2 separate regions of the Homo sapiens genome follow, and region 2 is linked to region 1. Evidence: fine-mapped expression QTL. Tissue or cell type: whole blood. Region 1 holds a variant in brackets; the other region holds the start of a gene. All regions are shown on one strand. Distances are between the middles of the regions. Region 1 has its middle 27 kb from the start of TMCC3. Region 2 holds the start of TMCC3 (transmembrane and coiled-coil domain family 3).

Region 1 (15,397 bases):
TCCATGGCATCTGTAAACTCATGGCACTGGTAGGAGTGTCTTTAGCATGCTGATGCATTATAATTAGTGTATAATGAACAGTGAGGACAACCAGAGGTCACTTTCATGGCCTTCTTGGTTTTGGTGAATTTTGGCCGGCTTCTTTACCACAACCTCTTATCAGCCGGGTCTGTGTGACCTGTAAATTGTGCCGACCTCCTATCTCATCCTGTGACTTAGAATTCCTAACCTCCTGGGAATGCAGCCCAGCAGGTCTCAGCCTCATTTTACCCAGCCCCTATTCAAGATGGAGTCGCTCTGGTTCAAATGCCTCTGACAATAGAAACCAACCCAAGCCAACTCAAGTGAGAAAAGAAAGTTCACAGCCCGTGTCACTGAAAAGTCCACACTAGATATCCAGGCATGACTGGACCCAGGTCTTAAGCATTCGCATTAAATCCTACACTGTCTCCACCTCTCAGCCCTCGTTCCTCTGCAGTAGCTTCACTCTCAGGAAGGCTTTCTCCACAGGTGGCCCCTGGCAGTTCTCAGCTTAAATATTTACCGATTTATCAACTCCAGCAGAAGCATCTCATTCAGCAAAAGTACCGGAATGAAGTGTCATGGATAGCTTGGGCCATATGACCATCCTATACTAATAAATGCTCACATAGCACTATGTGCCAATTCTATTCTTGTAACATCCCATTGATGGGGTTCAGAACACACTACCCCAATATATGGCAGTTTGGCATACTGCATATTTTAATCTGAAGGAATATGAGAAAATGCAGACACAGGAAGGTCTCTCTGACCTTTCCTCTACCCTTCCCTTCTGAAGCACATCATAAAATCTAGGACAGATTTTCTGAGCTTCCCTTGAAGAGGGTCATGAAACACTCATGTGAGAGTTGCTTTCCCTATATTCAAAGGGAAGGAGCATCCTTATCTCTGAAGACGATGGGACACAGAGAAGAATCCAAACAGGCCTTGCTAAGTTCCTCCAGGTCACTGCACTCACCTTGCACCCTTTGCCCTATCATATTTCTCCACCACCATCCTCTTCATCAACCTACTATGAAAAACACTCAGGTTTAATTGCTTCTCTATGGTTTCCTCTCTTTATGAAGGCTGCTGTGTCATGTAAAACATATTAAATAAATTTGTGTGCTTCTCTCTTATTAATTTGGCTTTTATTACAGGAGCACTAGCCAAGACACCTAAGATGGATAGAAGAAAATATATTTTTCCCCCTACAGCACTTTATAGATGAAAAACTTAAAACTTGAGGCACACAGAAGTTAAGTAACTTGCTCAGGTTCACACAGTAGTAAGTATTGGAGCTGGGGATTTGAAACTCAGGAAGTCTCTGCCTTTAGAGTCTGTGGTTTTATTGGTCTTTAATGCTATGCTGGAGCCAAGGGAAAGAAATGTTCAGACTGGCCAGTGCTGGAGCAGATTCTATATTTACAACCTCATTCTCTCCTGACATCCTGTATTCTAGACCCTTGAGGGATGGATGTGTGTCATATCAGATATTAGTGAATTTTAGAAAGCAGGTTTGTGAGCACCTTCTGCTTCAGAGACTGCAGCTGTTTCTGCATCATATTCATCATTGCCAATGTCAGCCTGACTGTAGCCATTTGAAAAGAAGCCTCAGAGCTTGTAATAAAGCAAAACTGAGGCTTCCTGGCCCCAGAATCAGGACCATGTCAAGATTCTGGCCTCTCTTAAAGAAAATTATTACCAGTACACAGCCTTGGGAAGAAACAATAAAGTAACTGGTGCTTCATCAGCAATGAGAAGTAAAATGAGACTAGCCGGGTGCAGTGGCTCACGCCTGTAATCCCAGCACTTTGGGAGGCCAAGGTGGGCAGATCAGGAGGTCAGGAGATCGAGACCATCCTGGCTAACACGGTGAAACCCCGTCTCTACTAAAAATACAAAAATTTAGCCGGGCGTGGTGGTGGGCGCCTGTAGTCCCAGCCACTCAAGGCTGAGGCAGGAGAATGGTGTGAACCCAGAAGGTGGAGTGTGCAGTGAGCCGAGATCACACCACTGCACTCCAGCCTGGGCGACAAAGCAAGACTCTGCCTCAAAAAAAAAAAAAAAAGGAAGTAAAACGAGACTTTAGAAATTACTCACCAGAATAAGTGATAACTAATAGACAAACTCATTATTATCGAATCCAAGGATTAGGCTTCAGGGAACATTATTTTCAAAAAATGCAGACCCAGATTTGGAGAATTAAAAGTTTTTCCATCTTTTTCTGTTACAGGAAATAAATTTACACGGATAAATATTTCTTTTTTCTCTTTCTTTCTTTCTTTCTTTTTTCTGTGAGATGGAGTCTCACTTTGTCACCCAGGCTGGAGTGCAGTGGCACGACCTCGGCTCACTGTGACCTCTGCCTCCCGGGTTCAAGCGATTCTTAAGCCTTAGCCTCCTGAGTAGCTAGGACTGCAGGCACATGCTACCACAGCCAGCTAATTTTTGTATTTTTAGTAGAGACGAGATTTCACCATGTTGGCCAGGCTGGTCTTGAACTCCTGGCCTCAAGCGTTCTTCCTGCCTTGACCTCCCAAAGTGCTTGGGATTACAGGTGTGAGCCACGGCGCCCAGCCTACACGGAAAAATATTTCTAAGTTGTCAGTTACTGACCCTGTTTTTGAGAATTGGTTCACAGGACCACTGGTATCAGAAACCACCTGGGATGTTCTTTATTAAATCATAATCCCAGTTGGGCTTACACCGGTGGTCCCAGCTACTTAAGAGGGAAGGCTGGAGGGTCGTTTGAGCCCAGGAGTTCAAGTTGCAGTCAGCTATGATCAGGCCTTGGCACACCAGTCTGAGCAGCAGAGTAAGACCCTGTCTCTAAAAAGTAAATAAAATTAAATCATAATCCCAAATAGACACAAGAATCTGTATTTGTTAAACACACTAAGTGACTCTTACGTCCACCAAAGTTTGAGAATCATCACCATAAGTGGCTGGGGCAAAATAGGATATTAGAAGAAGTAAGACCATTGGGTTCTGTATTAATTCATTCTTGCACTGCTATAAAGAAATACCTGAAACTGGGTAATTTATCAAGACAAGAGGTTTAGTTGGCTCACAGTTCTGCAGGCTGTACAGGAAGCATAGCGACATCTGCTTTTGGGGAGGTCTCAGGGAGCATTCATTCCTGGCGAAAGGCAAAGCAGGAGCAGGCATCGTACATGGTAGGAGCAGGATTGAGAGAGGGGGCAGTGCTCCACACTTGTAAACAACCAGCTCTAGTAATAACTCACTCTCTCTCATGAGAACAGCACCAGGAAGATGGTGCTAAACCATTCACAAGAAACTGCCCCCATGATCCTATCACCTCCCACCAGGCCCCTCTTCCAACACTGGGGATGACATGAGATTTGGGCAGGGACACAAATCCCCACCATATCAGGGTCTTAAATTGAACCAAATGTAATGGCCATAGGAGGCAGTTTCTGCTGGGTAGGGAAAGGGGGCAGCTCATTTTTCTCAGAGGCCACCATATTTTGAACAGCTTTAATTGTTAGGTGGTACCTCTAATGTTTATATCTTTTTTTTTTTTTTTTTGAGACATGGTCTTACTCTGTCACCCAGGTTGGAGTGCAGTGGTGCAGACATGGCTCACTGCAGCCTTGACATCCAGGGTTCAAGCGATCCTCCCACTTCAGCCTCTCAAGTAGCTGGGACCACAGACATGCACCACCACACCTGGCTATTTATATTTTGTAGAGACAGAGTCTCACCATGTTGCCCAGGCTATATATATTAGTCTGTTTTCATGCTGCTGATAAAGACATACCCGAGACTGGGCAATTTACAAAACAAAGAGGTTTAATTGGACTTATAGTTCCACATGGCTGGGGAGGCCTCACAATCATGGCGGAAGACAGGGAGGAGCAAGTCACATCTTACAGAGAGGGCAGCAGGAAGAAAGAGCTTGTGCAGGAAAACTCCCCCTTGTAATAATCATCAAATCTCGTGAGATTTACTATCACAAGCACAGCATGGGAAAGACCTGCCCCCATGATTCAGTTATCTCCCACAGGTCCCTCCCACAGCACATAGGAATTTAAGAGGAGATTTGGGTGGGGACACAGCCAAACCATATCACTATATATCTTCTCATTCTTTCTTTCTTTTTTTTTTTTTTGAGATGGATTTTCGCTCTTGTTGCCCAGGCTGGAGTACAGTGGCACAATCTCGGCATCTCGGCTCACTGCAACCTCTGCCTCCTGGGTTCAAGTGATTCTCCTGTCTCAGCCTCCCAAGTAGCTGGGATTACAGGTGCCTGCCACCATGCGCAGCTGATTTTTGTATTTTTAGTAGAGACTAAGGGTTTAGTAGAGACTTAGGGTTTCACCATGTTGGTCAGGCTGGTCTTGAACTCCTGACCTCAGGCAATCCGCCCACCTCAGCCTCCCAAAGTGCTGGGATTATAGGTGTGAGCCACCATGCCTGGCATATCTTCTCATTCTTTATGTTCAGAATTGTTGATCTCTATATTCACTGCTAGCTCTGTAGAGCAGAAAAGAGTAACACTAACCAGTGAATTTTAGTAAAGAATTTTTCAGATGGAAAATGTACTCTCATTAGCTATAAATTGACTAACCAACAACAATAATTAGCATTAGTGAAAAGAGCAATTGTTAAATAATAAGAGCTAACCGTTTTTGAGTGGAGTATAGTGAGCACTTTACATGCATTATCTCACTCTGTCCTCCTAGTCACCTTATGAATGAATGGGTGGTGATATTATCTCTATTATCAGACGAGGACACTGAAGTACAGACATTAAGTATCGTGTCCTAGATCACAAATACTGGGGCAAAGTTGGACTCATTCAGACTGATTCTGTTTAACATTGAGCCCATTTGCTTTTAACCTTTGAGCCATGCTGTCTTATCCTCTCAACAAGAATTTATTATTCTCTGGGAGACTGAAAACCGAGTCTGAAGAAACATTGACTGCAACAAGTGTGCATTTATTATATACTGGAAAAGAAAGCTACCCTGCCCCTGGCTCCGGGACTCACCATTCTAAGAGATCTAGCTGATATGCACAGAGACAGGCTTGTATGTCTCAGGTACCTGTTATCCAAATTAGGACACAATGGTGCCCATATCCTGTGGGGCCCCTCAGTGCTTCCAGAGCATTCCAGGGGTCAGATTTCTCCTGCTTCCTGGGTCTTGGATCCTTGACTTTGTGAGGCCATTTTAGTTGCTGCTCTTGACCCATCCTAAAGGTCAGAGCTGGGTTAAAGATAAAATAGCATACCTGGAAGAATCAGCCATAGCAACCTGTCTCTAAGTGCACTTTTGCTCCAATTCCAGTGACCACTTAGGCCAAGCCATGAGTTCATATAATGGGATATCTGAAGATATATGACCTCAGAAATTCACAGAGCAGATGGGACCCTTGCACAAATCATTACAGTATAAGGCAACGTGTAGTAGAGTGTGGGAGCTCTGGTGTCCAACTGCCTGACCAAGTCCAGTGTCGCCACTGCCCTTTTAGAGATAGTACTTAACCTTTCTCAATCATGGCTTTCTCACCTATAACTAGGAATAGTAGTAGGATTAAATGAAATAAAATGTATCAAGTGCTTCATAGGATTCCCATCCCATAGTATGTGTTCAATAAGTAGCTCTTATTATTGCTGTAAACAAAATATTATTTGTGGCAAGAAGAAGGAGATACTGCTCCTAGCAATCAGAGAAGTCTTCTTTGAGGAGGAGCATTTGATCTGGGCCCAGATGGGAGGAATTTCTGTGAGAGAGGAGGGATTATTCTATGCAGCAGCGGAACCATAACCTGCAAAAGCACAAAGGGAGAGGCAAGGCACGTGCAGGGCGCGGTGAGTGAGGCAGAATGACTGCAGGGCAGAGGGTGCGGGAGTGCAGGAGGGTAGGTGGGAAAGACTGGTCAGAGGGCGTTTGTGGAAGGTCTCAGAGGCTGGTGAGCATCATGTTAATCTCCTAGTCCATCCCTCAGGTTTGAGAGCTGAATACCCACTAAATAAGAATTGCACTGTCTTTTTTTTATTCTTTTTGCATTTATAATACTTACGATCCTAGCCAGGGCTGACTTGGAGGCAAGAATAATTCCCTGGCAGTTTTAGGAAGCTGCATGAATTACACATTCCTGGTTATGTGGACTCTCAACTTTTTGTAAACGGTAAGTGTATTACCAAAGGTGTATGATTCCTTGTGCAGCCACCCCCACGGCCCCCATCCCACCCCACCCAACCCCCGCCCTGCTGGCCATTCCTAGCTACAACCACAGAAGCCAACGCAGCCCAGAAGACAGTGCTGATTTGGGTGTTCCTGTCATTGGGCAGCCCTAGACTCCAGGCCTAGGGCGCGGCGGGGGTGGGGTGGGGGCAGGAGGGAGGGCAAGAGGAGGAAGGAAAGCCAGTCTCTTTTTGCAGATAGAGAAGAGGGTGCCCAGAAGAATTGTGCTGAGCTGGTGATTTGAGCTGTTATCTGCTTGGATGTACGATTGATTCACTCCTACTCCGAGGTTCTCAGAGCCCAGAATGTTCCATAAGTGAAACAATTGATGCATTCGGTCTCTGTGGCACTTAATCCACCACTCCTACCCCCATTTTAATATTTGTAATAGTGATCAGTGAAGGGCAGGACTTGAATGTTTTAGAACTAAAACGGGATAAAAAGTAAAGTCCTAATAATGGTTCTCTTCTGTCTTTGTCCCTCTAATTAGAGAAGGCCATATCCATGTCTCCATAGGAAATGGACAGTTAGGGAATTGGTACCGGGCTGGAGTCATGTGTAATCTTGCCCTGCCTGAGGGAGGCCTGATGTTGGAAGTATTTAAGAGAGTCTGAAAGCTTGGCTGCTCTAATAATTAGACTGGCTGTACTGGTTTTTCTTTGCTTATTAAATCACAGGCCAGAAACACCTCTGTGGCAGGACCTGTGTACTGAATTGGTATGCTGTGAGATCCAGAGCAAACTGAAAGTATGTCACACTTTGAGCATTTTCACAGACCAGTCATGGCCACAAGTTTAGGCCTGGCTTAACCTGATTCACTGGAAATCAGCTTCAACAGCACCAGCTGTAATGAAAAGTAAATATGCAGGTGTTTGTTGTTATATATCTGGCATTGTTAAGCTATCACTGAATTTTTTAAAAATCTTGAATCAGTTGGTGAATGTACATGTATCCAAACAGCTTGCTTCCAGACTGTGTACAATATCTTCTTTCTTTTTTTGAGACAGAGTCTCCCCTGTTGCCCAGGCTGGAGTGTAGGGGTGCCATCACGGCTCACTGCAGCCTCAACCTCCCAGGCTCAGGTGATCCCCCCACCCCAGTCTCCCGAGCAGCTGGGACTACAGGTGCACACCACCATGCCTGGCTAGTTTTTGTATATTTTGTAGAGATGGGGTTTCACCATGTTGCCCAGGCTGGTATCGAACTCCTGGGCTCAGGCGATCTGCCTCGGCCTCCCAAAGTGCTGGGATTACAGGTGTGAGCCATTGTACCTAGCCCATAAGTATCTTTTAATGCTTACCTTCAATTATGATAGATATTGGGAATACCTTGCATTTGTATAAAGCGTTTTTACTGGCTGATTTCAGTTGTTTGAAATCATGCATCCTCTGTCAATCTTCTGGCTGATTCAGTTGTTTGATTCTGCCCAGAACCAAGTGTGGCATAATAAATATTAGCTCCTTGATCCACAGAGGATGCTGACCCTGAATTGAGTGACTTATACAAGATGACAAAGCTAGACAGTGGCTGGCCGGAAAGAGCAGCCCACTAGGTCATCTGCTTTTGGGTTCAGTGTTGGGGTTTCTCCACCACATTGTGACAGAATAGTCTGGCTTGACTGGTTTTTTCTAAAGCACTGATTTTTCAGCTTCCCAAGAAAACCAGAGTAGATCCTCTTTTTGTTTATTTTGTTGACCCAGTTATACACCTTCTGTTCTATAGCTTTTCCCATCTTCTAGGATATGGGACGCAAATTTTATGCATAGCCAATGATTTTTTAAACCAAACTCATAAGCAAAATCTGAATTTCCTTGGAGCAGGAAGCAGAGAAAACAAATACCTTCTCTGTGCTGATTGCTCACATAGACATGCTAACCCACACTCTGCAAAGGGGTTGAGTTTTAGAAATTTAAATTACTTTGTTGTCACCTAAAATAAAACCTTCCCTAGACACTCCCCCAGCACTCTCTTTTTTAGTTTTTATTTTTGAGACAAGCTTTCGCCATGTGGGCCAGGCTGGTCTGGAACTCCTGGCCTCAAGTTATCCACCCACCTCAGCCTCCCAAAGTGTTGGGATTACAGGCGTGAGCCACCGTGCCCAGCCCCTCTGCCCTCCCTTCAACTATAGCCTTATCTTCCTCCTTGTCTGCTTTGCAGGCCAACCCTGGAGAGAGTTGGCTAACTTCCTGTCCTTATTTTCTCATCTCCCTCTTGTTTCTCACTCTTCTTCCGGCTGGACACTGGCCAGGTTTTTGTTAAGGTCACCGGTGGTCTCCACATGACTCAGTTCAGTGGACTTGAGTTTTTCAGACTCAATTTATTTCTCTTAGGGGATTTAGTACACACTGTGACCTTGGGAAATTTACTTCTCTAAATTATTTGCAAAATGGGCGTAGCACCTTCCTCCTCAGATTGTAGCGAGGTCTAAATGACATAGTTTGTGGGAAGTGGTGAGCATAGTGTCTGCTACAGTGAGAAGTACATGCTAACCACTGCTTTTATCAACACACTTCCCCTGGTTC[C/T]GGTGACACTGTATTTTCTTGTTTTCCTCCTATGCCTTTGGCCCCTTCTACTCCTCTGTGTTATCATGAAAGGAAATGAAATGCGTCTGCGGCAACAGGACTCTGGATGTGAGTCCCTGGATGTGAGGTGTTAAAGGAGGGACACTCCCAAGAGAAGTCTTAAGCAACTAAGTGGTGGTGCCATTTGCTGAAAGGTGGGATCCTAGAGGAGCCAGAGGGGCATGGAGGAAGGCGGGCACACTTGAACATACTGAGCCATCCATGTGTAGATGAACTGGATGGATGGGTGAGTAAGGCTGGAGGTCAGAAGAGACATAGGAGCAAGAGGCTCCATGGCCGGGCAGGTGGCTCACGCCTGTAATCCCAGCACTTTGGGAGGCTGAGGTGGGCGGATCGTCCGAGGTCAGGAGTTCAAGACCAGTCTGGCCAACATAGTGAAACCTTGTCTCTATTGAAAATACAAAAATTACACTTTGGGAGGCTGAGGCGGGTGGATCGCCTGAGGTCAGGAGTTCGAGGCTAGCCTGGCCAACATGGTGAAACCCCGTCCCTACTAAAAATACAAAAATTAGCTGGGCATGGTGGCGCAAGCCTGTAATCCCAGTTACTCGGGAGGCTGAGGCAGGAGAATCGCTTGAACCCGGGAGGCGGAGGTTGCAGTGAGCCGAGATCGTGCCATTGCAATCCAGCCTGGGCTACAAGAGCGAAACTCCATCTCAAAAAAAACAAAAAACAAAAAAACAAAAATTAGGTGTCGTGGCATGCGCCTGTAGTCCCAGCTACTTGGGAGGCTGAGGCAGGAGAATCAGTCGCTTGAACCTGGGAGGCAGAAGTTGCAGTGAGGCGAGATTGCTCCACTGCACTCCAACCTGGGCAACAGAGTGGGACTCCATCTAAAAAAAAAAAAAAAAAAAAAAAAGCCAGCAGTGGTCTGGGAGAGAAAGCAAGATGGGAAGGGAACGGTCTGGGACAGATGCAGAGAAACGTTGAACTGTTTCAATAGCCTCCTGATCAGCCTCCCGGCTTCCACCCTGGCCCCCCCATAAAAAGTCCTTACTCTGCCAGAAAATGCCACAGGATCTGCGCTGCTGTTCTTCTAACCCCAGGCTGCTTCTCTGACCTCATCTCCACCCTCCCCGCTCTCCTGCTCGGCTCACTCTGCTCCACCCATGCTGGTTTTCTTGCTGTTGTTCCTCAAATGGATCAAGTGCTCCCCTTCCTTGGAGCTTTTGCACTTGCTGGTCCTTTTGCCTAGAATGGTCTTTTTCTAGATATTCTACATGTATCACCCCCTCACTTCCTTCAGTTCTCTAGTTAGGTGTCCCAGCCTATCCATGAGAACTTCCCAAAACATATTATTCAGAAATGCAACACTCATCTATCCCCTTTTCTCTGCTTTCTAAAATTTACTAGCATCTGATATGATCTATATCTACCTGACATATTTTGTTATATTGCATAATATGGTATTATATACTATGTTTCTATATGTGACACATGTAATAATGATAAATATATATACTAATATACCATAATATATATTATACCATCCCTATATATTCTAATCTGCTATATTATACAGTAATTTTTAAAATTTCCCACCTCCAAATATAACTCCATGAAGCCAGCAACCTAATTGTGTTCACTGCTATATCCTTGGAGCCAAGAACATTTCCTGGCATGAAATATACACTTGCTAATATCTGTGGAATTAAGAAATTCCAACATTTCATGATAGCAAAAAAAAAAAATCAACTTTTATCTCCCCCAGGGTTGCCATTTGAAGCTGCAAGTACATTATGCAGAGTTGGTTGCTGTGGTACCAATATGTTTTACATTTTGTATAGTAATGTTCATGAAATGAAGGATGGGTTTCCAATTTCCATTAGTGCAGGATGCACTCGAGTCCTGCCAAAAGTTTCTTCCCTTTTGAAATGCCTTATCTCCAGCTTAAAAACTTCAACTTCCTTTTTTAAGACCCAGCTCCCTTTCTCAGGAAATGTGTGTTTCTACTAGGATACAAATGGGATTTATGATGCTGAGGGAAGTCGATTTGATTTGCTGAATATACCCTTGACAATTGAGAGAAGGTTATCTGAAATTAAAAAAAAATAATAACCCAGTTTGCCAGTATGCCACTCTGGATTACAGAACGGCATCAAGGTTATTGTGCTTGGAACGTTTTTGTTTTTCTCTTTTAAAAATATTGCCTAATTATGGACAGGAGGATATAAAAACAAAAGAAGCTCACATTCTCTTCCCCATTTCCAGTCTACTGAGGATGACCCCACGGTAGACTTAGATTTTCTCAGTGATTCAGAAGAAAATTGAGTATTGTTAAGGAAAAACAGCCTTAACCTGAGACTCTAAAATTGTGCTGTAAGTGTGAGCAGAGGGACACAGAAAGTCTGCTGATGAATGTCACCTGCTGTCTTTTGAAAACCAATGTATGCCACGGGACTCCTATGAATAGTAAATAGTACATGGCCTTTGAGCTGTTTTTATGTCAGTGGTAATAGGTCACACTCTTACTTAATTGCTCGTGCAGTTCAGAATTACCATATGGGGGTTAAGGATGCCCTTTGTGTCCACTGCATTTTGGGTTAATAGGTGTGAAGCATTAGGCCTCATAGCCCTGTGGTCCACCTGTGTTTGGCAGCGAGTTTAGCTGTGGGTGAGTAATTAATTACCTAACTATATAAAATAACTATAATTTTTTTCTCTCTGCTAAGTAAAACTATTTCTAACGAATAGCTTCACAGAAATTGAATACCAGTGCACAAGGTTCTAAGAAGCTTTTACATCTGAATATGCTTGATAATGTCTTAAAGGTGCATTCTATACATCCTTGTATGTATTTCTTCCTTTACCTGGGAAACGTTAGATAATAAAAAGGCTTGGTTTCGGGTGTCAGGTGGTCTTGAGTTTGAATCACTTACTAGCTGACTGATTCTTGTACCTTTTCATGTCTCTCACCGTGAACACTGGGGATGGACGTATGAGATACACTCCGTGAATTTCCTATTCGGGTAAGACATGGTAAAGAGGACTGCCCTACATTTTCATTTAAATAATTGCATTCAAAATAGAAAGGCTCAAAGGATGAGGGAATTTTTTCCATTAATGATTAATTAAGGTCAAACAGCTAGGCTTTCACTTGATTTACACCTAAATATGTATTAATTCATATTTTCTTAAGTAAATGTCAGTTATGCTGCCAAAACAGAAACCAATAACAATTCAGAGATTGAATACTAGAAAATAAACCTAGGGTTTGGAGAAGCTATTGAATCTAACTTTATCTAATGCCATTATAAATATCAGTTTTAAACTCAATAATATAACTTGGTTCTGTTTAGGGAACAGTGTAGGGAAATGGAAAAGGGTTGGTCTGGGGTATCAGACAGACTTGGGTTTAAATCACTTACTGTGAATGACAGCGGGCCACTGTCCTAACCTGTCTCCGTCTCAGCCTTGCTAGCCTGAGTTTGTGACAAGGATGCTGGCTGCAAGGTGTGTGTTTGTGAAGCCACAAAGATGAGAACCTGGCCACCCAGCAGGTGCCCACACGAACTGCAGAGTCTCTTCTCCCTCTTCTACTGCCTATTCCTTCAGCTCTGCTACCAAGTAGCAAGCCATTTTACATATCTGTGCCTCAAGTTTCCTCATCTGAAAAAGAAGGCTGAACCACACACCTTGTTCTGAAAAGTTCTACAGTCTAGGCTTTAAAAGTATAAATGCTTAAAAAAAAAAAGTTTCCTACTTAAAAATTGATACCATACTTGGATGTGTAGATGAAAATATCTACAGACCATGAACCATTCTGTTATTTATACTAAAGATAAATTCTTCTGAGAGCAAGTTAATTGGAAAATCCAGAAACCATTAACAATTTCTTGCACTCACCTTAAAAGAGCAATGAAATTCCATATCCTACAGTCTTGAAATGAGTAAATGGAAGGATGTAAATATTTATTGGAATGAGAGTGGAGCAGAGAGAAGCTCGGCTTTGTCTACTGGTGGGTGGTAACACATCTATGGATCATTGTTTGCACTAAGCATTTAATAATCCCATCTGTTGAAAATGTATAATTGGAGGTACTTTGAAATTGCTATAAGCTACCTAGAAATTGGCAAGAAAGTAATGCTGGAAAGATTCCAAACTCTGCAGCCAACCAAGAAATCCAATATAAATCAATATGTAATTATAAAACCACATCTTTGGCCACAGCTCTTTAAATATATTTATTTAGGCATGATACAGACTTTTAACACCAGAATCTGGAACTGGAGAGTCCTTTGCAAGCCTCAGGTTTGAATCTTTGGGGATACTGTTTATTTGACCTGCAAAACCCACAGACAAAGGCAGAACTTTCTGCCCCCAGCTGCTATGGTACTGTCTCCACTGATAACTCCACGTTCTCACTTGTCTCCCAAGTCCTTTAAGTTAGATTATATCTCATTTCAAAACTGAATCACTTGGTCTTATTAAAAACTTTATACTTCTTTTTCCTTCCTGGTACCTCTTTTCATACCAGAAATTCACTTGGTTGGGCCTGCCCTGGCTTCTCATTCAGAGAAGCATCTTTGCAGTACATTCCTACCTCTCAGGAGTTTGTGTGTATTTTTCACACTGAACTTCTTTCTTTAAAAATCTCCATTCACTGCCTTCCTTTGTTCCCTCATCTCCTCTGTTCCTCTCCCCACACTCTCCCTTTCTATTCATATATCACAGGCTGTGCACATATACTTTATGCAGAGAAATGGCATATTGAGAATTGTAGCTGTTCTTAAGAAAAGAAGACTGCATACTAGGAAGAGCTGTTAAAGACATTCTATGGGTCATTACCTCTTTAGTTATCTCTTTGGATGGAAATTTTTATGTAGCTCTATCTCTATGCAAAATTAAAGTAGGGGTTTAAGAAAGTACCTAATCAAAATGAGCAGATTTCAACAAAGGAAATCAGGGCTTTATTTTCCCAGGAATGTGGAGTTTCTTTGTAGGTTTCAAGATCCCTACTCTCTCATTCCCCAGCTGCTATTCCCCCTTATCTCCAGGCACAGCTGCTTCCATACATTTGCCAAGTTCATCATCGCATGAGTGGTGTCAGGGACTGAACTGTGCCCCTGTAACATTGGTATGTTGAAGCCCTAGACCCTAGTACTTCAGAATGTGACTGCATTTGGAGATAGGACCCTTAAAGAGGTAATGAAGTTAGAGCAACGCCATTAGGCTGGGTTCTGATCTATCTGATGTCCCTGTAAGAGGAGGAAACCAGCCAGGCATGGTGGCTCACGCCTCTGTAATCCACCTGGGCGGATCACCTGAGGTTAAGAGTTCCAGACCAGCCTGGGCAACATGGTGAAAACCCATCTCTACTAAAAATACAAAAATTAGCCGGGCGTGGTGGCATGAGCCTGTAATCCGAGCTACTCAGGAGGCTGAGGCACGAGAATCGCTTGAACCCGGGAGGCGGAGGTTGCAGTGAGCCAAGGTTGTGCCACTGCACTCCAGCCTGGGTCACAGAGTGAGACTCCTTCTCAAAAAACAAAACAAAACAAAACAAAACAAAAAAAACCGAAGAAGTGGAAACCTGGACACACTGAGAGACACCAGGGATGACCATGTGAGGACACAGCAAGAAGGCAGCTGTCTGCAAACCAAAGGGAGAGGCCTCAGAGAAACCAACCCTGCTGGCACCTTGGTCTTAGACTTCTAGCCTCTGGAACTGTGAGAAAATAAACTTCTGTTGTTTAAGCCCCCGAGTCTGTGGTATTTTGCTATGGCAGCCTGAGCAAAGTAATACAAATAGTTATAGCAATATCACATTTCTGTTATGAGATCGCCGCAGCATCAAACAGGAGAATCCAAGAAGGAGACCTAGAAAAACAGGTGAAACCACTTTCAAGCAGGAAATAAACTCTCTGGAGAGATGATCTAGCACGTGTGTGAAACATGTTCTAGGTGTATGACGTCTTTGGAACATTTTTTCCCCATCAAAGCCCAGTTTTGGGATTTTGACCTCCTTTGAAGTCAGGGAAAAATTTGGACCACAGGTTCAGGCATACGGAAGTGTAAGGAAACTATGTGGCATTCAGAGAGCTGTGTTCATGCTGATGTTGAATGCTAGGAATGTCTGATGCATGGGGTTACGCTGAGAATTAACCCGCTTCGATCCGGGTGAATTAAGATAAAGCCAAGCTGCGCTCGGTTAACAGCCCAGATGGAGATGAGTGGAGAGGTGCTGTTAACAGCACCAGAGCAGTCATTGTTTGGCTGGATTTTGGTTTCAGCTTTATAGAGTTAGCTTCAAAGAAGTCTTTAGAAGTACTTTGCACAGTCATGGAGTCCCTCTGTATATTTGATGGCCTCCAGCTCCATTCTAAAAGTGTGACCTTTATAAAGCCATAAGGGACTTTTGCTTGATTCAGTACTTTAAAGAAGGAAAAAAATGTGTTTTTGTACCCTGTGGTGTAGGCCTCTTCAAGATAGTTTCTTAAAAATCATTTGTTCCTTTTATTGTTCTTAATTTATTCCTATTTATTGATCAAGTAGGAACAATGGATATCAATGTATAATTTATGTATTATACAGTCCATCTAGAATTCCCAATGAATTATCAATAATAGAAAATGTGG
Region 2 (15,397 bases), 25 kb after region 1:
AATACTAAATAAGTAGCAGTGATTGTTTATTTGCAGTCACATAGAACATGGTATGTTAGAAATTAAATGTAGATGTTAAGAGTGTGGTCATTTTTAGTTGGCTATAAACCAGGTAGTTAGAATTAGAGATCCATGTTTGCATCAGGCCAGAAAGCTGCTGATCCGCAACATAAGCATTTCTATCTATCTATCTGTAATATAGATATGTAGAGCTGATCAGCATGTGTTCACCTCAAGCTAGAAGAATACATTTTAAAAACCTGATTTATTCTTCCTTTTGCTCTGTTCTTATATCCTTGCAGAGGGAAGCTTGTTGTACTTTTTGTCTTATGACTCTTTCCCCCAAAGGGAACACTTCCCTGCACTATTAAATCAAACTGGAATATGAAAAGAAATACATTTTCCTTTCCTTTACAAGAGGCTTGTACTTTTGTTTTCAACATCTGGCTTTCCTTGTCTCTCCTTCTCCCTGCTGTGATGACCATAGGACTGAAACATCTAAGGAAGTGAGCTGCATGAGGAGACCACCTCCTTCCTTTGTCCTACTACCATGCCAAGCACATAACTATCCTGGCATCTACAGCAACGTTTTTGGAGGTGTCTGCCTCACTGTCTAGATGGGCTGTCCCTTCTGGATGTCTTACTCATTTCTATATTCTCAGCACCAAGAGCAGAGGCTGTCACACCAAAGGTGCTCAATAAATGACGGGAGAATTCACAAATGTCATTAACTACTTAGTAGCTGAAAATTGGTAACATCCATCATTCAGTGAATTTTCATCCTTTCCTATTACCCATTCCAACCCCTTAGGAACAGACACTAGTTTTTGCTTATGTCGGAGTCATTTTTTAAAACCCCAATGCCTAGGAAATAAGTAGACATTTAATAATGTTGATCTCATTCACTCAGCAAACATTTATTGAATACTATGTTAAGAACTGTCCAGAATACCTACATGTACCTGGAAAGTACAGTCCTTTCCTTCAGGTAACCTATACTCTAGTGTGTGTAGGGGGGAAGCATAGAAATTATCACATGAAATATTTAAAGAATATAATGTATTATAACCTTTGTATTGAAATAATTAGTCCAGACTGTAAATAGTTGAGCAGTTCACAGGTAATCTGGTGTGGACTGACCACAGAAGACTCAAGCTAGTGGCCTGAGAAAACTCTAGAGTCCTTGGTGCCCCCACTAGAATCCTCTGTTGATTCTCCCTTTATTTGTGCTGTTCAAAGTTCTTGCCTTCTCTTGAAATGCTGCCCTTTTCCTTGTCTTCTTTCTGCCCATACCCTGCATTGAATGTTGCATCAGACAGGATTCTTTGGGTTGCAGGAGTCAGAAACCCCATCTCTAACGGGCTTGAGCAAAAAGAGGAATCCATTGCTTCATATCACTGAAAAGGTGGTCTAGGCAAGGCTGGTGTGGTGGATTGGCTGCCAAAATGGCAGTCAGCAATTTCTCCCATCTATGTGCACATCACTCCTTCCCTCAACAGGTAGACCCCGTTTCTCCTCCCCTGGAGTCTGAGCTGGACTTTTGACTTGCCTTGACCAGTAGAATGTGATGGAAGTGATAATCTGCCAGTTCTAGGCTAGGCCTTAGGAGATTTGGCAGCTTTTGTTTTTGCTGTGTTAGAAGGCAGCCACCATGTAAAAAAATCCAACTACCCTGATGGAGAGATGAGAGACTATAAAAAAAAGTATTTAAAAAAGTATAAACAGGCCGGCTACAGTGGCTCATGCCTATAATCCCAGCTTTGGGAGGCTGAGGTGGGAGAGGCCAGGAGTTAAGATCAGCCTAGGCACACAGCAAGACCCTGTCGCTACAAAAAATAGACAGGCGTGCTGATGCACCTGTAGTCCCAGCTACTCAGGAGAATGAGGTGGCAGGATAGCTTGAATCTGGGTGTTTGAGGCTGCCGTGAGCTATGGTCATGCCATCACACTCCAGCCCAGGTGACAGAGTAAGATAAAAAGTTTTTTAAAAAACTATAAACATATAAAAATAAAGACAGAGGCCCGGCCAGCCCCCACCATTCCAGCCACCCTAAGTCTTATAGGTGCTGACACGTTGTTTGTAGAAAAATCAACTCAAACTATGTTTTTCCTCTGTTCTCACACTACAAAAACAATAAACACAGAAGACTTCTGTGACCAAATATGGGAGAGGGGTTTCCCCACACACCAAGCAAGCAATCAGTTCTGGACACCAGCTGGGTGTCCTCCACCTCTACCTGGAGATAGCGTCAGACCCCACAGTTTGAAGGCAGAGTCCCCAAGACTGCCCTTCAAATGCCAGTCACAAGCCCAGGCCTTCAGAACTTCGGGCCAACCGGCTTCATGTTGGGGTTCCCATGACCCCCTCTTTGGGTTTGATTAATTTGCTAGAGCAGCACACAGAACTCAGGGAACCTTATATTTTACATTTACCGGTTTAGTATAAAGGATATCAGAAAGGATACAGATGAAGAGATGCATGGGACGAGGTAGGGGAAGGAGCGCAGGGCTTCTGTGTCTTCCCTGAGTACACCACCCTCCATAGATGTCCAGCTATCCAGAAGCCCCCTGAACCCTGTACTCTTCGGCCTTTTATGGAGACGTCACTGGGTGGGCATGATTGACAACCATGTAGAAATGTGACTGGACAAAAGGGTATATGATCTAGTACTAAGAGACTGAGTGGCGAGACCCAGCAAGGCCTGTCTGTTCAGATTCTTCTTGGCTTCTCTGTGCAGCATTCTTTCCTCCAGGGTATGGAGCAGGACCCCTTCTAAAATGAACCTTATGTCCTACAGTCAGACAAGGTAGGTCAGAGAATTTCTTCATGGCCAGCTGCATGACAGAAAGGCGGGGGAAGATTCCTTCCTTCAGGAGAGAAAAGAGCAGCTGGAACAAGGGTAGGATAAGGCTTCTGAGGCTGGCTTCTGGGATCTAAAGTGCCCCAAAATCATGACAAGAGACTATTACAGGGGCATTGGTAATTATAAGCCAGGAACCATGGGTGAAAACCAATGTATATATATATATAATAATGTCACTCATATGAATGAAGCCATCTTGGACACCCTACCCCCCCCCCCCCAGTGCCACATGGAACAGAGAAAAGCCACCTCACCTCCCTTGGAGGCCTGCCCAGATTGCAGAATCATGAGCTAATGAGAGGTAGTTATTGTTGTAAGCCAACACCTTTTTTTTTTTTTTTTTTGAGATGGAGTCTCGCTCTGTCATCCAGGCTAGAGTACAGTGGCGTGATCTTGGCTCACTGCAACCTCCGCCTCCCGGGTTCAAGCAATTCTCCTGCCTCAGCCTCCTGAGTAGCTGGGATTACAGGTGCCCATTACCACTCCCAGCTAATTTTTGTATTTTTAGTAGAGATGGGGTTTCACCATGTTGGTCAGGCTGGTCTCGAACTCCTGACCTCAGGTGATCCACTCACCTCTGCCTCACAAAGTGCTGGGATTACAGGCGTGAGCCACTGCACCTGGCCAAGCCAAAGCATTTTAAGGTGGTTTGTCATGCAGCGATAGCAGATGGAAAATGCTGGATCTAGTGCTCTAAGGATTTAGTAAGAAGTCTTTCTCCGTTTCATGGCTCTGCTTTCCCAGGGAGGCTGTCTTTATATGGTGGAAGGATGTCCACTACAGCATCAGGCTTGCATTGTACCAGCTTAGCAATGCCCACTGGAAGGGCATAGGCTTTCCCAGCAGTTCTGACAAAAGTCTGGGGATGACTCTCATCTGCTCTGATTAGCTCATGTGCCCATCCCTGCACAAGCCACAGTGACTCTGACTGGCCAAGGCTGGATGACATGCCACTCTCTAGATCCAAGGATGGGAATGGTCCACCTTATCTAAGCCATTTGGATTAAAAGTAGGAGTAGGGTAGGTCCCAATAGAAAACCTAGGTACTGTCTTCAGAATAAGGGGTGGGATCCTGGGCAGGCTGAAACAACAAACACGCACTACAAAAGTCAAGTGTAGTCCTACCTCTTTCCATAGGCCTTTCACTCCAAACTTTAAACTATTACAGCTCAAATGACCTGGTCTCTTCTTTGGTGCTTTTAGCATCTGCTGTCTTGTTGTGCTCCTTCCTTATAGTTTGCAAGTAAATTCTTATTTCACACCTTAGGTATGAACCTTTGTATTTCTTATTGTTCTGACTGCATTTGTTATTTTAACAGTGCGATATTTTCCATACTTTCTGCAGAGAGAGGCTCTTGGAGGTATCAAAAGCACAGAATTCTTACATTGACAGGAGGAATTTGCACCTGCGCTCTCCCTCTCTCTCTCTCTCCAGGGCTGACAAAACCCTAGGCATTGGCATTGCGTCCAAAGGAGGGGATGTGGTCTATTTTCCCCTTGGGTTCTGCCTCCCAAAAGGAGACCCAGATGGTGATCAGCACTGCTTGTTTTCTTTCTGTTCTGGGGAGCTTGCTCTTCTGCTATTTAATTTGTATATTTTTAAAAAATAATTTTGTATGAGTGCCCAGCAGAGCAGCTTTTGGGCAACTAGCTTATGAAATAAATTTAAATGATCTAAAAAAGAACATCCTTTGTTAATTGACATTTAAATGAGCCTAATAAAGTTTTAATTTATCCTTCTCATTGAGGGTCAGCATTCCAGGATGGAATTCTAAGAAACATCAAGACAGTAATAGAAATGGAAAGTAGATGCCTGTTGGTACCCCCAAGCAAAGCCCAACCCTGGTTTGTCAGGGCCTCTCTGAGTTTATTCACACGTAAAGTGCTATTATGTTTATTTATTTGAGAAGGTACCCCTAACTGGTGATTTGAATTCCAGAATTAAGGATATCACCATATCTGTTCCTTTGAGACTCTGTTACCTTTAAAATTTTAAATTATTCTTCACTATTGTGTGTATGTATGAATGAATGTACATCCAGTGTACCAACAGTCATTTGTTAAAGAGCATTATATATTTATAATTGTGTACCCCTTTTCTATTGAAGCCTTCTTCATCTCCCCACCAGAGATACTGTCCTGAAATTTGTGTTTATTATCCTCTTGCTTTTCTTAAACTTTACAGGAAGGCTGGGCGTGGTGGCTCACGCCTGCAATCCAGCACTTTGGGAGGGTGAGGCGGGTGGATCACTTGAACTTGAGGCAAGGAGTTCAAGACCAGCCTGGCCAACATGGTGAAACCCCATGTCTACTAAAAACACAAAAATTAGCCGGGCATGGTGGTGCACACCTGCAATCCAGATACTCAGGAGGCCGAGGCATGAGAATCACTTTAACTTGGGAGCCAGAGGTTGTAGTGAGCTGTGATCGTGCCACTGCACTCCAGCCTGGGCGACAGAGTGAGACTCTGTCTCAAAACCAAAAACAAACAAACAAAAAAACCAACCAAACAAAAACTTTACATGAATCTTTTTTTTTTTTTTTTTGTGGAGACAAGGTCTCACTATATTGCCCAGGCTGGTCTCGAACTCCTGGGCTCAAGTGATCCTCCCACCTCAGCCTCCTAAAGTGCTGGGATTATAGACATGAGCTACCACACAGCCTACATGAATCTTACTGCAAGTAATTTTTTGTGGCTTGCTTTTTTTGTTTCTCAGTATTGTTTGTGAAATTTGTCCATATTGATTTTTTTTTTTAGCTGGAGTTTGGTCTGTGGCTTATTTTTTTACTTTATTGTTTATTTTCATAAGCAGAAGTTTAATTTTTTTAATGTCAAACCTTTGTGGTTTATGCTTTTTGTGTCTTGTTTTTTTTTTTACTTGAGATGATAATAATGATATTCTTTCATTTTCTTCTGACAATTTTAAGTTGTGTTTTTTCCACTTTAAGTCTTTAATCTGTTTTTTTTTTTTAATTTTTAATTTTTTTAGAGACAGGTCTTGCTCTGTTGCCCAGGCTGAATTCCTGGCCTCAAGTGAACCTCTTGCTTCAGCCTCCTGAACAGCTGGGATTACAGGTGCAAGCCACCATGTCCAGCTAATTTTTTTTCTTTATTTTTCCTTTATCTGGTATTGGTTTTTGTTTATGCTGTGAGGTAGAGATCAATTTTATTTTCATCCAAGTGAAAAGGTAGATCATGCCACTCCTTTGCTCAAAAATTTCCAAATCTTCCCATATTCCCCAAAATTAAAGTTCTTTCTTTTCTTTTTTTTTTTTCTTTGAGTCAGAGTTTTGCTTTTGTTGCCCAGGCTGGAGTGCAATGGCATGATCTTGGCTCACTACAACCTCTGCCTCCTGAGTTCAAGCGATTCTCCTGTCTCAGACTCCTGAGTAGCTGGGATTACAGGCATGCGCCACCATGTCCGGCTAATTTTGTATTTTTGGTAGAAACAGATTTTCTCCATGTTGGTCAGGCTGATCTTGAACTGCTGACCTCAGGTGATCGGCCCACCTCAGCCTCCTGAAGTGCTGGGATTACAGGCGTGAGCCACCACGCCCTGCCTAAAATTAAAGTTCTTAAAATAGAATGAAAGTCCATATATGATCTGGCCCTCTGAAATGTCTCTGACCTCATCTCTTTCCAGTGAACACTGGCCTCCTTGCTCTTCCTTGAACACTCCCGAAATGTTCAGGGCCCTTGACTTTCTGTTTGTCTGCTGGAAATTTTCAATGTCTATACTTCTGGCTTCCTCATTTCCCAAGTCTCTGCTCAAGGTCACCTTATCATGGAGGACTTCTCTAGCCACCCTAGCTAAAATCTCCCTCCAACACACACACACACACACACACACACACACACACACCCCAGCGTTTGGTATTTCTCTTCTTTCAAAGAACTTACCTGAAAAACTCTCTGGGTCTAGTATAGTTGTGTGTTGGGGTAGTGGTAGATGGGTATTTTTAAAAGTGTTGATTTAATTTTTTGAATGGCTTAAGGACTACATGGGACTTTCAATTTCTTCTTAAGTTAGTTTTAACCCTTTCTCTACAAAAAAATATATTTTTAAAATTAGCCAGAAATGGTGGCACACACCTGTAGTTCTAGCTACTTGGGAAACTGAAGTGGGAGGATCCCTTGAGACCAAGAATTTGAGGCTGCAGTGAGCTATGATTGTGCCACTGCACCCCAGCCTGGGCAACAGATACCCTATCTCTAAAAAACATTTTTTAAAAAATTTTACTTTCTGAATAGTTAATATATGCCCACAGTATAAACATTCAAGTTTCAAAAGTATACACAGTGAAAATTAGATCTCTCTCCATCTCTGCCTTCTAGCTACCTGGTTCCCCTCTCTTGGCATCAATTTCTTGTCTGTTTCCCTAGTTTCTTATTTATCCTCCCAGATATATGTCGTGCATGTAGAAGCACATAACATATATTGTTTTTACATAAATGGTGGAATGCCATATATATTATCCTGCACATTGCTTTTTTTCCACTGAACCATGTATGTTAGATTTGCTTCCAAAGCTATTCATAGAGGGCTGCCTCATTTCTATTCCAGTTACCTAATATTCTATTGGATGATGTACCATCATTTATTTACTTAGTCTCCTTCTGAAGGATAATTAGGCTATTCTGTCTTTACAGTGGCCTTCTAAGAAGCCAGTGTGTTTTGCCCATCTTCAATCGCTGCTTCACCCTGATGTCAGATATACCTTCTCCTTAAACTTCCATTCCCATGCTATCATTTCCCTGTTCAAGAATTTCCAACAGCTACCCAGTTCCCACAGAATAAGGCTGAACTTCTTACCCTTGAACGAAGATTCTGCATGGTCTCTGCCTTCTTTTCCATCATGTCTTCCTGTTCCTGAGGACACTCCCCAAAACTGATGACTTGAGGTTTTCCCAAATGTACCTCTGATTTTAGGGGCTCCAAAGTTTTCTTCAGCCTGCTCTACCGTCCCCTTTGAACCCTATGAGGGAAATCCTTCCCTCCCCCTGGACTGGTCACACTGGGCTCCAGGTCCTCTCTGGAACAGCTGCACTTTAAATATTTCAGCCCAGTCTCCCACTGTACACCCTACAGAGCCAGAACAGGTGTTTTGAATTTTGTTTGGGGTTACTGATATTTAAATTGTTCACCAATGGTCCTTCCTCTTCTAAACTCCAAATTCCTTGTGGGCAGGGACTGATGACTGGGAATGGGGAATACTAAAATGAAAAGATATCCTGACTTCCAAGTAGCTTAAAACATAAAGGTAAGCTGGGCACAGTGGCTCACGCCTGTAATCCCAGCACTTTGGGAGGCTAGGGCAGGTGGATCACGAGGTCGGGAGATCGAGACCATCCTGGCTAACATGGTGAAATCCCGTCTCTACTAAAAATACAAAAAAATTTAGCTGGGTGTGGTGGCAGGCGCCTGTAGTCCCAGCTACTTGGGAGGCTGAGGCAGGAGAATGGCGTGAACCCGGGAGGCGGAGCTTGCAGTGAGCCGAGATTGCGCCACTGCACTCCAGCCTGGGTGACAGAGCGAGACTCAGTCTCAAAAAAAAAAAAAAAAGAAAGAAACATAAAGGTGAGCCAGATATGCAAAATTAAAATACACAACACAGTAGGATCTTAGTTTAAGTGGAAGTATGCTCTATGCTCAGGGCAATCATGGTCGGGGGGAGTTTTTATTTTATTTCATTTTTTTACTTTAAATCTCTGGTCTCTAGTCCAGCGTCTGGTACATGGCAGCTGCCCAGTAAGTGCCTGTTGAATGGAGAATAACATAAAAAGAGGCATTTAAGGCAAGTGTCAACTTCTTGCAGTAACAGTCACCTTTTATATATAAAATAAGTCAACAGATAGTGTAGTGTGGATGTCGCTTATCTTTTGGGGAGAAAGAGGGCTGTGTGGGAGGGGATGGAATCAACTTTCAGCCAGGGAGGGAGGCGAAGACATTGCCTCCCGGGTCGGGGGTGGGTGGGGGGTCCAGGCGGCTGCGGGGCGCGGGAGAGGCGGGGAGAAGGGAAGGGGGAGGAGACTCTCGCCTCCTGCCCCGCCTCCCCCACCCCGCGGCGGCGGCGGCGCAGGGCGGCCGCGCGGGTGTTGGCACCAGAGGCAACAGCTGCAGCAGCCGCGCCGCCCCCTCGCCCGCGGCTCCCAGGGTGATCCCGAGCACAGCCGGTGGCTCGCGGCGCGGCAGCCCCAGAAGACGGGAAAGTTCGCGGCCGGAGCGCGGAGATGCCGGGCAGCGACACGGCGCTCACCGTGGACCGGACCTACTCGTACCCCGGCCGGCACCACCGCTGCAAGAGCCGGGTGAGCGCAGCGGGCTGGGGGGCGGCGGGTGCGCGCGGGCCCGGGGGCGAGGCGGGCTGGGGCGGCGGCTCAGTGCTAACCCACGCGCCCCCGGCGTTTCGCCGCCGCCCTCCGCTGCCGCCGGAGGTCCGTGCCTCCCCGATCCTCCGAGCTAAAAGGGTGGGCGTCGGGGGCGTCGGAGCCCAGGCTGCGGTTCTGGGATCCCAGGTCCGCCTGCCCCTCACGGCGCCCAGGTCCCCGCGCGCTATGCGGGACGCCCGGTTCCCCGACGGCCCGCGCTCTGCTGTCCTCCCCGCCAGGGAGCGCCCGCCGCTCCGCGAGGGAATCCCGCCACCCGGCCACCCGCGGCCCCGCGTCTCCAGGTCTCCGGGGTCTCGCCCTGGGTGTGACGGTGCCCTCCCCGCCGAACGTCCCGGCGGCCGCCCTGTCTCCCTGTCCTCGGGGCGTGTGGCCGGAACCCGAGCGCGGTGCGCAGCCGGAGCGCGGGGAGGCGGCGGACGGGCTCTGCCCAAGTGAAAAGTCAGAATCTTTGCGCTGCCTCTCCGGAGTTTCGAGCCGAGCCGAGCAGGCGCCCTCGCCATTGTTTGCAGTGTAATTTGCTGTTGCTGATTTTGGCTGTGGGCGAAAATAGCTCATTCTGAGCCTGCTGCAGAGACGAGCCCTGTAGGGCTTCAAAATAAAGACGGAGGCCGCAGCCCAAGCGCGGGTCTGTCCTGGGAGAGGAAGCCTTCGCCCTCCCCGGTGAATACCTTTGCCCTCCCGGGCTGTTGAATCGTCGAGGCTGGATGTGAGGCTCTGTAACCCGTTCTCCCCAGGGCTGATTGAAGTGCCATTTAACAAAGCACCTCCTCCACGCTGGCATCTGTTCTGGCAGGAGGCACCTGGAGTTGTTCTTTGCTCCGCCAACTACTTACTCGCTTGTCCGAGAACTGGGGATTTGGGTGTCAGCCTCTGTGTAAAGTTCACGGAGGGAGAGCCGGGCTCAGATTCTGGCCTGCCACTTCCAAGATCGAGAGACCAACTGGATGGAAATAGTAGCAATAGTGACGGGGTTGTGTCGCGGCCCTTTGTGCAGGATTTTGGTCTTCACTCATAATTTGAAGTAGTAATCGATTGCCCCAGAAGTGAAGCAATGAGTCTCTGGTTTATTTGCCCGCTTTCCCTTTTTCCTTTAGCATCTGTTAATCATTTTGGAAGGATGATTTGAGTTTTTACAGATTGAATATATTTGGTGGAATAATACCTCATGCACTCATCTCAATCTTACAATTCTCTTGTTTTTGCACTTTGTGTATAAGTTTCGTAACAGTTTGCTGTGAAAATAACCAGAAACTCCATTTGGAATAAACATTGAAGAAATGTGCTTACCCACAGGTAGACATTTCTTCTTGGATAGCTGTAATGCTAGTTAACAGAACTATGAAGAAAAGGAGATCATCTTCGAATGCATTTGTAATTGAGAGGATTCTGTAAAGTTAATATTGCAGACTTGAAATGTGAAAGCTTGTTTTTTCTTGTCACAACTGTGATCTTCTTTGTGTAAACAAGATTAGTAATCTTAGCGGGATGGATGGCTCATTGTCAACTCATTTAAGTGGTTTGGCAAAACTCATGCAACTTTACAAAACTCACTCTTCATAACCTGTAAAATGGTGGTGATAAAGTTTGTGCCTCAACTGCTTAGGTGGAATGTGGTAAAGCAATTGTGTAAGGTAACTGCAGAGTGTTTCTGCCGCATCTGCCACTGTTGCCTGTCTACGCCAGTCTTTTCTATTAAAAGGTCAAAACCTTATGTGATTTCTTGATTTTCTTTAAAATTCTGCTGACGGGCCGGGGGCGGTGGCTCATGCCTGTAATCCCACCACTTTGAGAGGCCGAGATAGGTGGATCACCAGGTCAGGAGTTCAAGACCAGCCTGGCCGAGATGGTGAAACCCTGTCTCTACTAAAAATACAAAAATTAGCCGGGCGTGGTGGTGGGCGCCTGTAATCCCAGCTACTCGGGAGGGTGAGGCGGAGAATCACTTGAACCCGGGAGGCGGAGGTTGCAGTGAACCGAGATCGCGTCAGCCTGGGCACAGAGCGAGACTCTGTCTTTAAATAAATAAATAAATAAATAAATAAATAAATAAAACAATTCTACTGACAATGTTATTGTACCTGCTGCCTTGTATTGTTAGCATGGAGATACCCGATTTTTAAATAAGCTGTGTATTAAAACTGAGTTAGACATTATATGTGCGGATTATCGTAAATTAGCACATTGGGCCAGTCAGATCTAGTGAAGAGAGGAAATCAGAGAAGGGCTAGAACTTCAGCAGACCGTAATCACAAATTCTACTACAGTGATGCTGGACTTCTTGAGGTCCCAGTTGAAACTTCTCAGCTATCTGCTTTTAGGTTTTTTATTGTTGAGACAGCGAGGAATAGGTAGAACTAGTGAAATTTTTGTAAACTCATAATAATAACTTTTCTCAAGCAGGGTTGATGTAATTTCAAGTCTGTCCTGAGGCTACAATAAGTCTGTTGTAATGAAGGGAAAGCAACAATTTTACTGTGCAGAAAGTATTCATCCATTTAAATGATCGTAGCTCCTGTATTGTGGAACTCACTTGGATGCAGCTGTAAAGATATGTTTTCCTGACACCCAGAACGTATGTGATGCGAGAGGAAGACATCGAGTGCTAATTTCTTGATGTCACCATCTCCTTGGGAGGAAACTAGTATAGGATTTAAAAAGAACCCTTTTATGAACTCATTTGGTGAATTAGCTCCCCTAAAAATGCCAATGAGAACTAGGGGGTCATGGGAAGAGTCGACTAATCTTTCAGGGATATGGAGTTTCTGCCTAGAAGTGGGCAAAGACTCCATGAGATGAAGTTCTTAGTTACTGAATGGTCATTTTTTAAATTCAAAATCAATACCTGTTGAGATAACAGGGAAACTACATGGTCTGTCTTGCTGGGCTTATTTCAGCCTTTGAGACTGGAATAATAATGAGGCAGTGTACTCTTTCAACATTGCAGAAATCTATTTTTACATCTAGGTGGACTGACCTAGATAACCCCTCCCCCCTTAGTGAAAATGTAAGTAATGAATTCTGTGATTGTTGCTAAGCTGACAAGTCAGGATCATTCACATTTTAAAACTTCATCTTTGTAAAACTCAGAAATGGTGCTTGTTAACTTGATGCACATATCTCTCTACTTTAGAAGAAAGAGCATCCATAATTAGACTCCTACTTTTTTTTCATGCCCTAGATAGTTAAAGCCTATCATCTTTTTAAGAATACAGGCCGTCTGCTTTCTATACAGTAACTGGCTTTTATTAATGATGTGTGAATTAGGTTTTCTTTTAGTTGGTTTTCATTTTAAGTGTTCTAAAATGCCCTCTCCAGCCACTTGAGTATAGTGGTGGACAGCTGGGGCTCTGGACCTACGTGGGTTGTATTCTGGCTCTTCGAGCTTCTTAACTGGGTGACCACTGGGGCAAGGTCCTAAATAGCCTTTCTGAGCCTCCAGTTTCCCATCTGTAAAAGAGGTAATACTCCACTCTTCTGGGAGTGATTGTGTGTCTTAAATAAGAAAGTATTTGTTTTTTAAAAAAAAAAAAAAAAGCCAGGCACGGTGGCTCACGCCTGTAATCCCAGGACTTTGGGAGGCCGAGGCAGGTGGATCACCTGAGGTCAGGAGTTCAAGACCAACCTGGCCAACATGTTGAAACCCTGTCTCTACTAAAAATACAAAAATTAACCAGGCATGGTGGCAGGTGCCTGTAATCCCAGCTACTCGGAAGGCTGAGGCAGGAGAATCTCTTGAACCCGGGAGGCGGAGATTGCAGAGAGCTGAGATCGTGCCATTGCACTCCAGCCTGGGGGACAAGAGTGAGACTTCCTCTCAAAAAAAAAAAAAAAAAAAAAAAAGGTGTGTGCTTTCAAATATTAGCTATTTAAAAAAATTTTTTTAAATTTATGTTCTCTCACTGGGTGAAAAAGCTGTATTTGTCTATATGTCAGGTTAATAATTTTTTTCTATTTTGTTGGTGCCACTACTAATCAGAACTGCTAGTCATCTTGAGTGCCTGCCCTCCCCCATCTCTCTAACCTATTAGCAATACCACCGCACCTTTCTCTGACATTTCTCTGGAATTGGTTTCTTCCATATCTCCCAATCATCCCCCACCTTAGTCACTTATGACCTTCACCAACTTCTGTTCCATCCTGCATGCAAGGACCATATTATTTTCCCTACAGAACCATTTGCATTAGGATAGTCCCCAGAATACAGATCTTGTACCAGTGCTGTTTGCTACCAGTGTAATCTTGGATCCTGTAATCACTCTAAGCCTTAGTTCCTACTTCTACATAATAGGGGTGTTTTGAGGAATAAATTCAGTAATGTCTATAAAATGTTTAACTCCATGCCGGGTGCACAATAAGAAATCAATAGATGTTAACCACTTTTACTATAGGCCGAGCATCTCAATCCAAAAGCCAAAATCCAAAACTTTTTGAGCGTCAACATGACGCTCAAAGGAAATGCTTACAGGAGCATTTCTGATTTCAGATATTTCTATTTGGAATGCTCAACCAGTAAGTATAATACAAAGATTCCTAGGCCGGGCATGGTGGCTCATGCCTGTAATTCTAACACTTTGGGAAGCCAGGTGGGTAGATCACTTGAGTTCAGGAGTTTGAGACCAGCTTGGCCAACATGGTAAAATCCGGTCTCTACTAAAAATACAAAAAAATTAGCTCGGCATGGTGGCAGGTGCCTGTAATCCCAGCTACTAGGGAGGCTGAGGCAGGAGAATCGCTTGAACCTGGGAGGCAGAGGTTGCAGTGAGCCAGGATTGTGCCATTGCACTCCAGCCTGGGCAACAGAGGGAGACTCCATCTCCGAAACAAAACTAAACAAAACAAATTCCAAAATCTGAAATCTGAAACACTTCTAGTTCCAAGCATTTTGAATAGGGGACCTGTACTATATGAAAGAGGGATTTGTGAGCTTAGAAACGGAAAGGCTGCTAATTTTGTGAAAAGTATAGACTTTTCTAGCATTGCTAGCATTTTGTGCCTCCTTGCGTCATGTTTCTCATGACATTGACTGTTTATATGTTTAATGCTTACATGTATTTATAAACTATAGACATTGGCACTTTGAGAGCAAGATGCTTCGTTTATTCAAAAAATACTTACTGAGCACCTTCTGTGTGCTGGCTGCTGATCTAGGCATCAGGAATACAATGGTAAATGAAACAGTCTGGTCTCTGTGGAAACTTAATATCTGGTGGGTGTATCTCATTTATTCTTGTGGTTCCGGACAATACCCCTGTCTTGTACAGGAGAACATGATGATAATACATGCAGAAATCTCTAACATCTGAAGTAAAACTTGTGTCAAGCGTGAGTGCCACCTGTAGTATATCTTCAAGTGTTCTGTGGTTTGGAAATCCATCTACAATTACATGATGAGTAATGACCAAAGGCAGTGAAGAAGAGGATGCTGTAGCCCTTCTCACAGTGGAACTGGTTGGGCAGTGATGTAGTAAGTTGATGATCACATGCTTACTCCCTGGGCAGGAAATAGGGGGAGTGGAAACTGACCTCTGTCCTGGAGGACACTGACCCGGTGAAGTGGTAAGTTGAGTAGTACACAGATATCGTTTTCACCGGTGATTTGTTTTGTTCTAAAGAGCCTCTTAAAGAGAATGAATAATGGTGAGTGTCTCAAGCCAGGTTTTTCTTACATTTAGGATGAGCAAAGTGATGCGGTGTGTGTTTTTCGAGCTGTACTTTGTTGCAGGCTTTTCCTTTAGAGGAGAAGGAACTGCCGGCCACCACCAGCTCACCCGCCTGTCACATCCGCTGTAGAGATCACCAAGACAGCTGCTACCAAGTTGGATCTCAGGGTGTATTTTGCTTCAGACCCTCTGCCGGCATCTCCAGGACTGCTGCTAAGGTCAGAAATCAACCTAGTCCTACTTGGAAAATGCCCGCAGCTTGACTTAGAAGAGTCTGCAGCTTTCAGCCCTGTGGTTTCTTAATTGTGTTTTCATGTTTTCAGTGGAGGGGAGGAGGGTGACAAGAGAAGAGGAAGAGAACCATGAATCACTGTACTGTGAATCAGAATGAGGACTTTTCATTCCTTCGAAAGAGAACATCAGGATATATGATTTGTGCATAGGCCAACTGCTTCCGTCGACTTGGGAGGGGTGCTGCCTGA

Evidence for each region.
Region 2: it holds the start of TMCC3, and the variant in region 1 is fine-mapped to the expression of TMCC3 in whole blood (TOPMed, PIP above 0.99).

The regions. Positions count from the first base shown.
Region 1 is chr12:94,669,519-94,684,915 of GRCh38, reverse strand. No RefSeq gene overlaps it. Among named protein-coding and RNA genes, the nearest start is that of TMCC3, 27 kb to the right of the region's middle. RefSeq lists enhancers at 1,571-1,660, 8,137-8,246, 8,837-8,946. The variant C/T (reference allele first, on the strand shown) is at 8,759.
Region 2 is chr12:94,644,130-94,659,526 of GRCh38, reverse strand. TMCC3 (transmembrane and coiled-coil domain family 3) reads left to right here and starts at 8,970. Exons shown (of 4, transcript NM_020698.4): 1 at 8,970-9,174. The coding sequence starts at 9,097. It overlaps LOC105369914 (a long non-coding RNA gene), which reads right to left and starts at 13,089. Exons shown (of 2, transcript XR_945225.4): 1 at 9,924-13,089; 2 at 8,525-8,622. RefSeq lists silencers at 8,847-9,016, 9,037-9,506, 9,597-9,726 and an enhancer at 8,803-9,518.